Linked DNA regions of Homo sapiens: region 1 is linked to region 2. Evidence: fine-mapped expression QTL. A gene starts in region 2. The other region holds a variant in brackets. All regions are shown on one strand. Distances are from middle to middle. Region 1 overlaps KRT2 (keratin 2). Region 2 holds the start of KRT72 (keratin 72).

Evidence for each region. PIP is the estimated chance that this variant, and not a neighbour inherited with it, causes the effect.
Region 1: its variant is fine-mapped to the expression of KRT72 in unexposed skin (GTEx, PIP above 0.99).

What each region holds. Positions count from the first base shown.
Region 1 is chr12:52,639,408-52,644,783 of GRCh38, forward strand. KRT2 (keratin 2) reads right to left here. Exons shown (of 9, transcript NM_000423.3): 9 at 5,151-5,376. Among named protein-coding and RNA genes, the nearest start is that of KRT2, 10 kb to the right of the region's middle. The variant G/A (reference allele first, on the strand shown) is at 2,899.
Region 2 is chr12:52,598,600-52,603,975 of GRCh38, forward strand. It overlaps KRT72 (keratin 72), which reads right to left and starts at 2,864. Exons shown (of 9, transcript NM_080747.3): 1 at 2,428-2,864; 2 at 299-513. The coding sequence starts at 2,853.

The DNA.
Region 1 (5,376 bases), 41 kb after region 2:
TGTTTGTGACCATTAGGTAAGCAAAGATTTCTTAAGACACCAAAAGTCCAAACTATAAAGAAAATTTGATAAATTAGAATTAATCAATATTAGAAAATTCTGCTGCTTGTAAGATGCCATTAAGAAAATGACAAGAAAATCCACACACTGAGTGAAAATATTGACAATACATATACCTGACAAATGACTGTTATCCAGAGTATATAAAGAACTCCTGCAACTATGTATGTCAAACTGCCCAATAAAAACTTTCACAAGATTTGGACAGACCTTTCCTAAAACATGTACAAACGCCCAATAAGAACCAAAAAAAGACACTGCACATCACAAGTCATCAGGAAAATGCCATTAAAACTACAAAGAGATAACATGCACACCCTGTAGAATGAAAAAGACTGGCAATGCCCAGTGTTGGAGAGGAGGTACATCAACCCTAAGAAATCCTAGAATAGGCAAAACCAGTCAGTGGTATCGACAAGGAGATCAAAAGTTGGCTGGGGGCATAGGGTAACTCATTGGAGTAGTGGAAATCTTCTATATAAGTATTGTGATAGAGGTTATAAGGATGTATACATTTGTTTAAAAATATTGAGGTATATGCTTAAAATGTAATACAATGCATTTTCTTATTTATAAGTGAATCCTCATTAAAGTTGACTTTAAAATAAACAGCATGCACATTCGAATGTGATCTGTAGTAAATTTTAATTTACTGGAGTTCAACAATGCATTAGATTAACTCAGCGTTCTGCACTTTGAACTACAGCTTCCCCTGCCATCTATCTTTCAATGGAAAGTAATCAGAAATTTCAAGTCTAATTAGTTACAAATATCATTACCATTTACACCCATCTATCTGTATAAATCAAGATTTTCTCAATACAGAAATATGTTGACTAATAAGATACCTTTGGATTTTCTACATATGCAATCACATCATATATTAATAAATCAGTTTTATTTCTTTCTTCCTATCTGTAGGATTTTATTTATTTTTCTTGCATTATTGCACTATTTAGGAATCCCAGTACGATGCTGAATAGGAGTAGTGACAGCAAATACGCTTGCTTGTTCCCAAGAAATGCTTGTGGGAAAAGCATTGACTTTCACCATTAAGTATGTTAGCCATGGGTTTTTACAGATGCCCTTTATCAGGCTAACGAAGTTCCCTTCTACTCCTAGTTTAAGAATCTGTTGTTGTTGTTGTTGTTTTTGTTTGTTTGTTTGTTTTTACCATGGAGGGTGTTGAATTTTGTCAAATGTTTTGTATCTATTGATACAGTCTTATGTTTTTTTCTTCTATGTCAATATGGTGAATACATTAATTCTTTGAATGTTGAGCAAGCTTTTTATTTCTGGGATACATTTTAAACATATACCTCACTATTTTTAAACAATATTTTTAAACACATGGTCATGATGTATTATCCTTTTTATATCTTTCTAGATTGAATTTGCTCATATCTTGCTGATAATTTTTGAATATATATATATATATATATATATATATATATATATATATCCATGAGGGATTTGTTCTTTAGTTTCTTCCATTAATGCTGGCCTTATAAAACAAGATGGAAGGTGTTTCTTCTTCCATCTTCTGAAACAGTTCGTGCAGAATTGTTATTACTCTTTAATTAATCCCACCTATCTGCCAGTGCCTGGATATAAAGTTATCTCATCCATGAGGTCTTCTCCGGTCCCAAAATACTGCCTGTAACTTACAATAATAATAATAATGTAACCTACAGTACTGCATGCTTATGATGGCACAGGTCCTACAGAATAAACATTTATCATTGATTTCAGTGTGTAAACCTCCAGCAATCCTCTGAGGAAGCTGTTGTTGCTACCTGTTTACAAATGAGTAAAGAAAGGCTCAGAGTTGTTAAATAACTTGCCCAGGGTCACACATTCTTTTATCTGATCATCAACTTTTCATTTAGTGCCTACTAAATTCCAAGGTGCCAGCAACTGAGCCCACCCCAGAGCCCGCTCCCTTAGCATGTCCATCAGTGCTTTCCAAACCATGGCCCTTGTGTCACCAGCATCAGAATCACCTAGGAGGTTGTTAAAAATGCAGATTTCTAGACTCCTCTGTAGTGGAAACTCAGGGAGAAGGAGGGGATGCTGGAACAAAGAATATGTATTTTTAGTAAGGGCCGCTTAATGAAATTAATGCACACTACTACATTCTGCCTTATGTTAATAGCTGTTTGCAAATTTCTCATTCTTCCCCTACTAGACCATAAATCCCTGACAGGACGCACTGTCTTATAAGTCTTGATACGCCCACGTAGCCACATGCACAACCTTGCCCACAGTCATTGTCCAACAGGCATTTACTGAACTAGAATGAAAACCACTTTGAGCTTCACATGCTCACACCTATTCACAAAGGGTCTCTCTGGATATCCTGACAGTGTCCCAAATCCCCTGTTGGGCTGAAAGGCTTTAGGAGTAAGCACTGGCTGACCCGGTAGCACAGACAGGGTTCTTTTCATCAGAGCTGGAAGGATCTGTAGAAACAATCTTGGCCACTGAAAGTCCTTAAAGTGAGGCAGAAATTGAGCCAAGAGAGGAGAAAGGACTTGCCCAGTGTCACGCAACAGTTCCCACAAAGATGAGGATCAGCATTGAAGTCTCCTCACTCCCAGGGCACTCCTTCCCCACTTCACAGCAAGAAAAGGAGGCAGGAGTGTTCCATTTAGGTGGGCTTCCTGGAGGAGGTGAGCTGTCCTGAAGGAGGTGAAATGTCCAAAGGAATTTCCTTTCAAATGACAGGAAAGAAAGAATTTGGTGAGGAAGAGAAAAAGGGTTTATTTGAATTCATACTAAAACTCACAGGCAGAGAAAGGGAGGGAACCACAAGAGGGAGGATGTCCCAAATATTCT[G/A]CAACATCATCAGAACGGAAATGTTTAACCCAGTTCCCTATGGAAATCGAGCTCGTAAAACCCTTCTGCCTGTGCCTGTCTCCTTTTTGAAGCCCAGGACCTGACAAGTCAATTACCAAATTTGGTGGAGGAGCAGCAGAGGGCCCTGGTGGGAGGGTGTGGCCCAGATTCTGGGCTACTCTACACTTCGGAGGGAAAGGAGGGTCCCTCTCCAGAGGTAGCCCCTCTCTCCAATACCTGCTTAGAGCTTGATTTCTGTCACGCCTCAGGCCTGGGTCCCTCTGAGTTAATGTACAAGGCTAATTTTACTACTGGAGTCCAGCAAGAAAGTAGCATATATATGATCTGGAAACCAGAAGGGCTGTGTCTCAGGTGGGGAAGGGATGGGGAACTGGAAACGATAGAAGGAGCTAGAGGTTCAGACCACTGAAAGTCTCAAGAATTAAGGCCGGGTGCAGTGGCTCACGCCTGTGATCCCAGCACTTTGGAAGGCTGAGGCAGGCAGATCACTTGAGGTCAGGAATTCGAGACCAGCCTGGGCAACATGGTAAAACGCCGTCTCTACCAAAAATACAAAAATTAGATAGGCATGGTGGTGCATGTCTGTAATCCCAGCTACTCGGGAGGCTGAGGCATGAGAATCACTTGAGCCGGGAGGCGGAGTTTGCAGTGAGCTGAGATCATGCCACTGCACTCCAGCCTGGGCAACAGAGTGAGACTCCATCTCAAAAAAAAAAAAAATAGAATTAAGGCTCCCCTGGGAATAAATCTGCCACCTTACCTGCCTCACCTCTTTTCCCCTCAGAAAGTTATTAGAATGGATTGCTATTCCCAAAGCCTTTTAAAAAATGAATAAATTGGGAGTGGGAGACCTGGTTTCTGTGTCCACCCTGGGCCTTACCTTTTTCCTCACCTAAGTGAAAAGTTCAAATACACTGATTACCAAAGCTCCTGTCCAGCCTCAAATGTCTGGGACCAAGTCCCTGTTAAAGGTTGTGTTCATGTCTACACTATGTACATACCCGAAAACAGCCAGCTCCTCACACCACTTCTTCCCAACCTGCACCCTCTCCCCACAGACCTCTCCCCACGACTGAGGCCTGGGTGGTTCTCAGGGACCTTCTCTGATCAGCGGATCACTTTAGAATGCTCAGCCTGGAGTCTTGCCACCTTGCCACCTGCAGCCTTCAGAGCTGTTCCTGCAGCACCCTCATACCTGGGTCCTGGCTGGTCTGGAGGCAAGTGAATGCATCTGTTCTCTATTAGAGCCGTCCCTGCAACCTCTGGGAACAGGAAGACGGTCACAGACTCAACTAAGGACTCTCCAAGGTTTTAAAGCTGGGGTGGAGTGGGAGAAAAAAGGACCCTCCAGGAGTGGTTCTGAGTGGCTTTAAGCCACAGCTACTATAACCAAACGCCACATACAGAAAGCTAAGCTGACCTAGCCTGAGCCACCAACTCCCATTTGGGCAACTCTGGCCTGTCTAACACCAACCCCAAGCATGCCCAATCCCACCTGCCCAACCATTCCTGAACTCCCTGGAAGCCCTGCTCAGGTGACATGGCCTTCCTGAGGAAGGGGCTGAAGGCATCTTCACACCCACAGGAGAAGGCCAACCTGATGGCAACATCCATGCGACAGGCCCCGGGGGCTGCGGTGAGAGAGGAGAGAAGGGCTTGTTTGCTGAGTGTGGTGGGACTCCGCTGACAGGAGGGGTGTCCTGTGAAAATAGAAGTGGCTGTTTTGGAGGCCACTTTAGAGTCCTCCAGACTCTTCCCAGGTATCCTCCTCCAGGCTTGCTCAGAGCCCCCGCAGAGACAGAGGCCAGGACCTACATCAGGCTGAGGAAGGTCTGCCTTGGAAGCTCGGAGCTTGGAAACTCACCACGATGGTGCCAGGGGCTCAGCGGTTTTGCCCTGAGGAGAAGTGATCCCGGGCCAAAGCCTTTGTGGAAAAGGGAGAGGGCAGTCTGTGGGAAATGCTCAGGAAGAATGGGTTTTTCTAGAAAAGAGACTCTTCCACAAATCTACCTGTCCACCTCCCGGCAATGCCATGGCCCTCAAGTCTGGTAAATACTTTCTGAGAACCACACACCCATCCCCAGGCTCCCATTCATCCAGAGGCTGGCGCCTGGGCTTCCCTCAGGGAGGCACGCTCCTCACCCAGGAGCCCCTCCTTAATGCCCAAACCTCCCTTGTCCATGGCTGCCCACTTCCACCAAGGTTTGACATCACGCAGACAGCACATGATATGAATTGCAAATGAGGTTTATTATGAAGACCCCCAGACCACAGCACTTCCGAAAGCAGAGTGGACAAGAGGAGCTATATACACAGAAACACATTTCCCCCCAGCACTGCCAGGCTTAGAGATGAAATCCCTGGATGGGCCTGGGTCCTCAACAGAATACACATCTGGAAAATGGGCAATGCAAAGAGGCATGGTGGGGGCGGGAATGGGCATGGCTAGAAGCACAA
Region 2 (5,376 bases):
GCCATGGAAAACTTCACTCAGGAGGAACTACAAAGGCATTTGGGTTGTCCATCTGGTTTTGATACAACTCTCTTTCCCCCATTCCTTCATTTTCAGTGCTAGAAATTGAGCACACATTTCCTCGACAGTTTGGAGAACCGGTGTAGGTAGATCTATTCTTTTCCTAGTTCCATTCTGTCTGGATGTTCCTCCCTCCCCCGGTATCAGCAAGGATCTCAGAAGCAAAAATGCCATCTCCAAACGAAAACCTCATTTGAAATCAGATCCTCCAGGGCCATATTCCCTGCCACTCACTCACCTCTTCTTGTAGTCCTCCACCAAATCCTGCATGTTCCTCAGCTCCGAATCCAGCCTCACCCCGTCCCCAGACAGCATCTCCAGCTGCTTCTGCAGGTTGCTGATGTAGCCCTCATAAATGGGCTCCAGGTTCTTCCTGCAGTTGTTCAAGTCCAGCTGCTGTAGGAGGTTCCACTTGGTCTCTAGCACCTGATTCTGCTGCTCCAGGAACCGCACCTGGAACCCAAAGGCAGTCATCGCCCAGAGTCCCCATGTTGTTGCCTCTCAAGAGTGGGGAAAGGGCCCCAAAAACCAGAGGCAGCCATCCTGGGGGACTGGGGGTAGGAGAAAACAAGGCTTATCCCGGGGTGGATTCAGCCGAGGGACATGCTCACCTGGATCTCCAAGACAAGAAATAGGACCCGGTCTATATGGAATCAGGAAGAGGGCTTAAGCAATGGTACCATCTGCCTCTGCCTCAGTGAGTTTTCATGAGACAGAGGTAGCTTCTCATGCTATAAATGCTGGTGTTTTCTGAGTAAAGAGAAATGGGGAGCAGGGGAGAAACAGGGACTGGGGAGTGACATTGGAAAGCACACTGGCATTTAGAGCGTTCCTCCTGTTGTGTAGCCTAAATTGCACTTGGTTTGTTCATTTCTTTGTTGTTCACAGCAAGTTACCACATCTTCACAAAGTTCCTTCATACTTGACCAGGGTGCACATTTTTAGACTCAATAACTCCAAGCCCTCTGCCACACACCAGCATTCCTCTTCTCACCTATCTTTCAGCTTGAGGGGCAGAAGGAAACATGCTAGGGAACAACAGACATAAAAGAGCAAGAGAATGCTCTGGCCTCTGGAATAGCTGCTGTGTTTCTTCCATGCAGACCTGTGCCCTCCCGCCACCTCAATTCCTCTTCCCTAGCATAGTGGTGACACTCGGTCCACCACCAACTGTCCTGTCCAAGGTGAGCTCATTTCTTAGCCTCCCATGTCTTAATATCCTCATCTGCAAGGCAGAACAACAACAGAATCATGGGTTGTGATTGTAAATGAGAATCACTTGGGACGGCACCATAAATGTCAGCTATTGTTATCAGGCTGTCCCCTTATCACTCACCGTCTAGACCTTCCATCCAGGTGGAGACAAGAGAAGTCCATTCCCTGTCTCCTCTCCACTCACTGGGGTCATTGCCTCAGAAGCTCCAGAGACAACTTCCCTATTACCCCAATTTCTGGATGCCCCACCCTCAGCACACACCTGTAACTTTACATGCACTCTTTCCAAGTGCCTCCTCAGCCTCACCCTTCAGTTTTCTGGCCCTTTTCTCTCACCTCCTCTATCATCTTCCTGGCTACACACTTACCCCACTCCTCAAGCACCAAGCACCATGTCCTGCAACGTCTCTTGGCCTCTGTTCCTAATGCCCTGCCCTGAATGTGGGTCCCATCTCCTCTTCTGATATTGGGAGCTCTCAAAGTGCCCATTCCTTGGACATCCTGACCCCTCCCTTCTCACAGTCTTGTCTCATGCAAGAAAGAAATGAAGGTCCTTGATACGTTTTGGCTGTGTCCCCACCCAAATCTCAACTTGAATTAAGTCTCCCAGAATTCCCACGTGTTGTGGGAGGGACCCAGGGGGGAGGTAAATGAATCATAGGGGCCGGTCTTTCTCCTGCTATTCTCCTAATAGTGAATAAGTATCACGAGATCTGATGCGTTTATCAGGGGTTTCCGTTTTTGCTTCTGCCTCATTTTTCTCTGGCCGCCGCCATATAAGACGTGACTTTGGCCTCCCGTTATGATTCTGAGACCTCCCCAGCCATGGAGAACTGTAAGTCCAATGAAACCTCTTTTTTTTTTTCCCAGTCTCGGGTATGTCTTTATCAGCAGCATGAAAATGGGCTAATACATCCTGTTTATTGGAAGTATGTGCCAGGCACTGTTCTGAGCACTTCGTAAACATCCCAATTAAGCCTCATCGCAACCCACTGGAGTAAGACCCATTATTGTGCCCATTTTACAAATGGAAAAGGGAGGCTCGGAGAGGTTATGACCCGCCCACGCTCCCACACAGCTCGCCAGTGGCAGAGCCAGCACCACTGTGCACATGCGCCCAACGCAGGGACAGGCCAATGCCCGAGGACTCACCTTGTCGATGAAGGAGGCGAACTTGTTGTTTAGCGCCTTGATCTGCTCCCGCTCCTGGGCGCGCACCCTCTGGATCTCGGGGTCCATCTCCACGTTGAGCGGGGCCAGGAGGCTCTTGTTGACGGTGACCTGAGGGATGCCCCCGGGTGGGCACACGGAGGGACACTTGGGCCCCAGCCCGGCGCTGCCGAAGGCGGTGCCCACGAAGCCGCCCAGGCGGCCGCCGCCCCGCCGTGCAGCAGCGCTGAGCGCCAGGCTTCGGCTGCCCCCAAGGCAGGAGAGGCTCTTGCTGCCAAAGGAGGCCGAGCCCTTGACCCGGGCCCGGAATGAGGCGGAGCTGCTGCCGATCCCGCCAGAGAGGACCGCGGAGCAACCGCTGAAGCCCAGGCGCTCCCCGCGGGGGAAATGGGTCAGTTGGCGGCTCATGGCTCGCAAGTACCGGTGCTGGCCGCGCGGGAGGCAGAAGGGGCGCAAACAGCCGCTGCGTTCTCGGCCCAGCTCGCCCCTTAAATAGCCTGGCTGGCTGGAGTCAGCCTAATTTGTATGTCGACAACACCTTTTAGATCCCTTGAGGCCTCTTGGGTTCTTCATGTAGGAAATTACCATGCACTCACCGAGATTTTTGTCTGTTCCACCGTGAACTCCCCATGAATCCCTGTAAAGTGACCCAGAACCCAGCATTTACTTGGCTCACCTCCTGCATTATCATGGCTTAGCGACCTTATCTCCACCTGCTGGCCTCCAATTACTGGGGTTATCACTCCCAAGATCACCCCTGGAAACTTCCAGTGGGGCTGACCCTCTGGGTGTGTGTCTGGGGAGACGGAGGTGTGTGAAGCAGAAGTCCAGGCTGCTTCTGCTTCAGAAGGCCATGAATAGAGTCAAGACTATCGCAGAAAATCATCCTTAGCCTGTCCTCCTCCTGCCTCCCAGGCTTCTGGATGAGGACAGCTCTGTCCCTTGTGCAAGAAGGAAGTTCAGAAGGAGGAGATTTTGGCCCCGTCTGCAGAGACCTCTCAGTCTGTTGGAGAAGGCAGGACACAGAGACCTCTGGTCACAAGTGTTGAGGGTTGACTTTGGACCAGAGCGAAAAGATTTCTCCACTAAGCATTTCTGGACTAAGAATGGGGACCATGCTATCTGGGAGGGAGGGAAGAAGGCCTGGGGAGGTGGTACAGGAAGACTCAGGCATGGTTTAGCAGATGGTGTTTCCTAAGGCTTTCGGTTGTTTTCATTTTTGTTTTCTTTTAATAGCAGAAGAGGCTTATTTATCCCATCCAGCAAACCTCTGCTCAGGTCATTTGCCACCCAGTCATTTCTGATTCAGCATCAAAATGTGATCAGTTATTAGGAAGAGGTCAAGACTCTTCAGATCTAAAACCAAGAACTAGATTCTAGAACTTCATTCCCTTTAAGCTACAGAGGCTCCTTCTTCCACCTAACCCGATTTCCTTTTCTCAAACTTAAGCTGCCTTCAAGTCTCCTCCTCTCTTAGCAACAGCTCTCCTGTTCCTCTGGCATGCAGGTGGGATTATTTCATTGCTCTTATTTCTTAAGCTGCCAGAGTCCTGGGTGTGTGTTCCATTTCCTCTATCAGATTGACAGGGCCCCCTGGATTCACCCTTCCCTCCTCTGCTCCCCCAGTGCTCAGCCCAGGCCTTGGCCAAAGGGACATTTAGGATGATTGTGAAACAGCAGAGTGCTTAGGGCAAGGCTTGTTACTGCACCTTCAGTGATACCCTGAAGGCTGGGTTCCCCTTGGGGACCTCATGGGTTGGTTAAATGGTACCTGGGGGTAATTGGCTGACATAGCCTCCACTGGGCCAATGACAGGACATAATAACAGCCGAAGCGTTTACTCCACGGGGAACAAAGTTGTGAGGGCATTGTTAAGCGCTGGAGATGGCACCGATCACAGATGAACAGATAACGGCATCTGGGTGTCCTAGGTGGGAGAGAGGGTGGGCTCTCAGTGCTGCCTCAGAGGAGGGGCTGTAGTCCCTTCCCTCTGAAGAGGAGAAGGGCAGTGTCAGTGTGGCTGGGTGACAGCAGACCCTTCAAGAAGATCAAGGTTATGTTTTTTATTATTACATGAGATTTTCCCTCTACCCCGTAATTTTAGCCAGTTTTTTTTCCACAAGCACAAAAATGAATTTATTTATTCCAGCCATTGAGAATAGAAAAGCAAGGAATGGATTACACTGAAAGAGGAGAATTTTTACGTAGGATTGACTGACAAAGGGTGTCTTTGAAATAATTTTTTTTTTCTTCCTAGAAATTTTCTAAGGAGTTGAGATATCCTGGGACCAGGGCTCTTCTGCCCAGGGTTAGGGAACTGTAAGATGACCTTTTCTCATCTTCCTATGAGGGGTTGACTGGCTGGATGAATAAGGAATTCCTCAACCCCTGAATCACCTTTATTACAGATCATGAGGAGACACAAGTGACACATGCAGATTTCAAAGGCCTCAGATGTGTGGGGATGTCAGCAGATCAAAGGGGGTTGAGGCCTGGGAGGAGGGGTTCTCATTGCCTCTGCCTCTGACAGCAGCTTACGGTGTCACCTCAGGCCTTGGTGACCACCTCTGTCATTAGTTCTTGGGTTAAAGCAACCCCTGGATTAGTAAACCAGACAAGGAACATTGCCCTTAGAAATCAGATCTTTACTACAAAAGACGGATGAAACCACTCTAGGCTGAGAATTGAAAATGCATTGCTGGTTAAACTGGGTCTCCTTGCCCTGTAACACTACTTCTTGGGAAGTTAATAGGTATCATGGGAAAAAAAGATATGGGAATGGATTCTGTGCTTGGTTTAAAAAAAAATGAAGCAGGCATCTTATTGCAGGACTTTCTAGGCCCATTAACATGCTTAGTGCTAGAGCAATTTTAGGGCAGTGAACTATTCTGTACAGTACTGTAATGATGACTACATGTCATTATACATTTG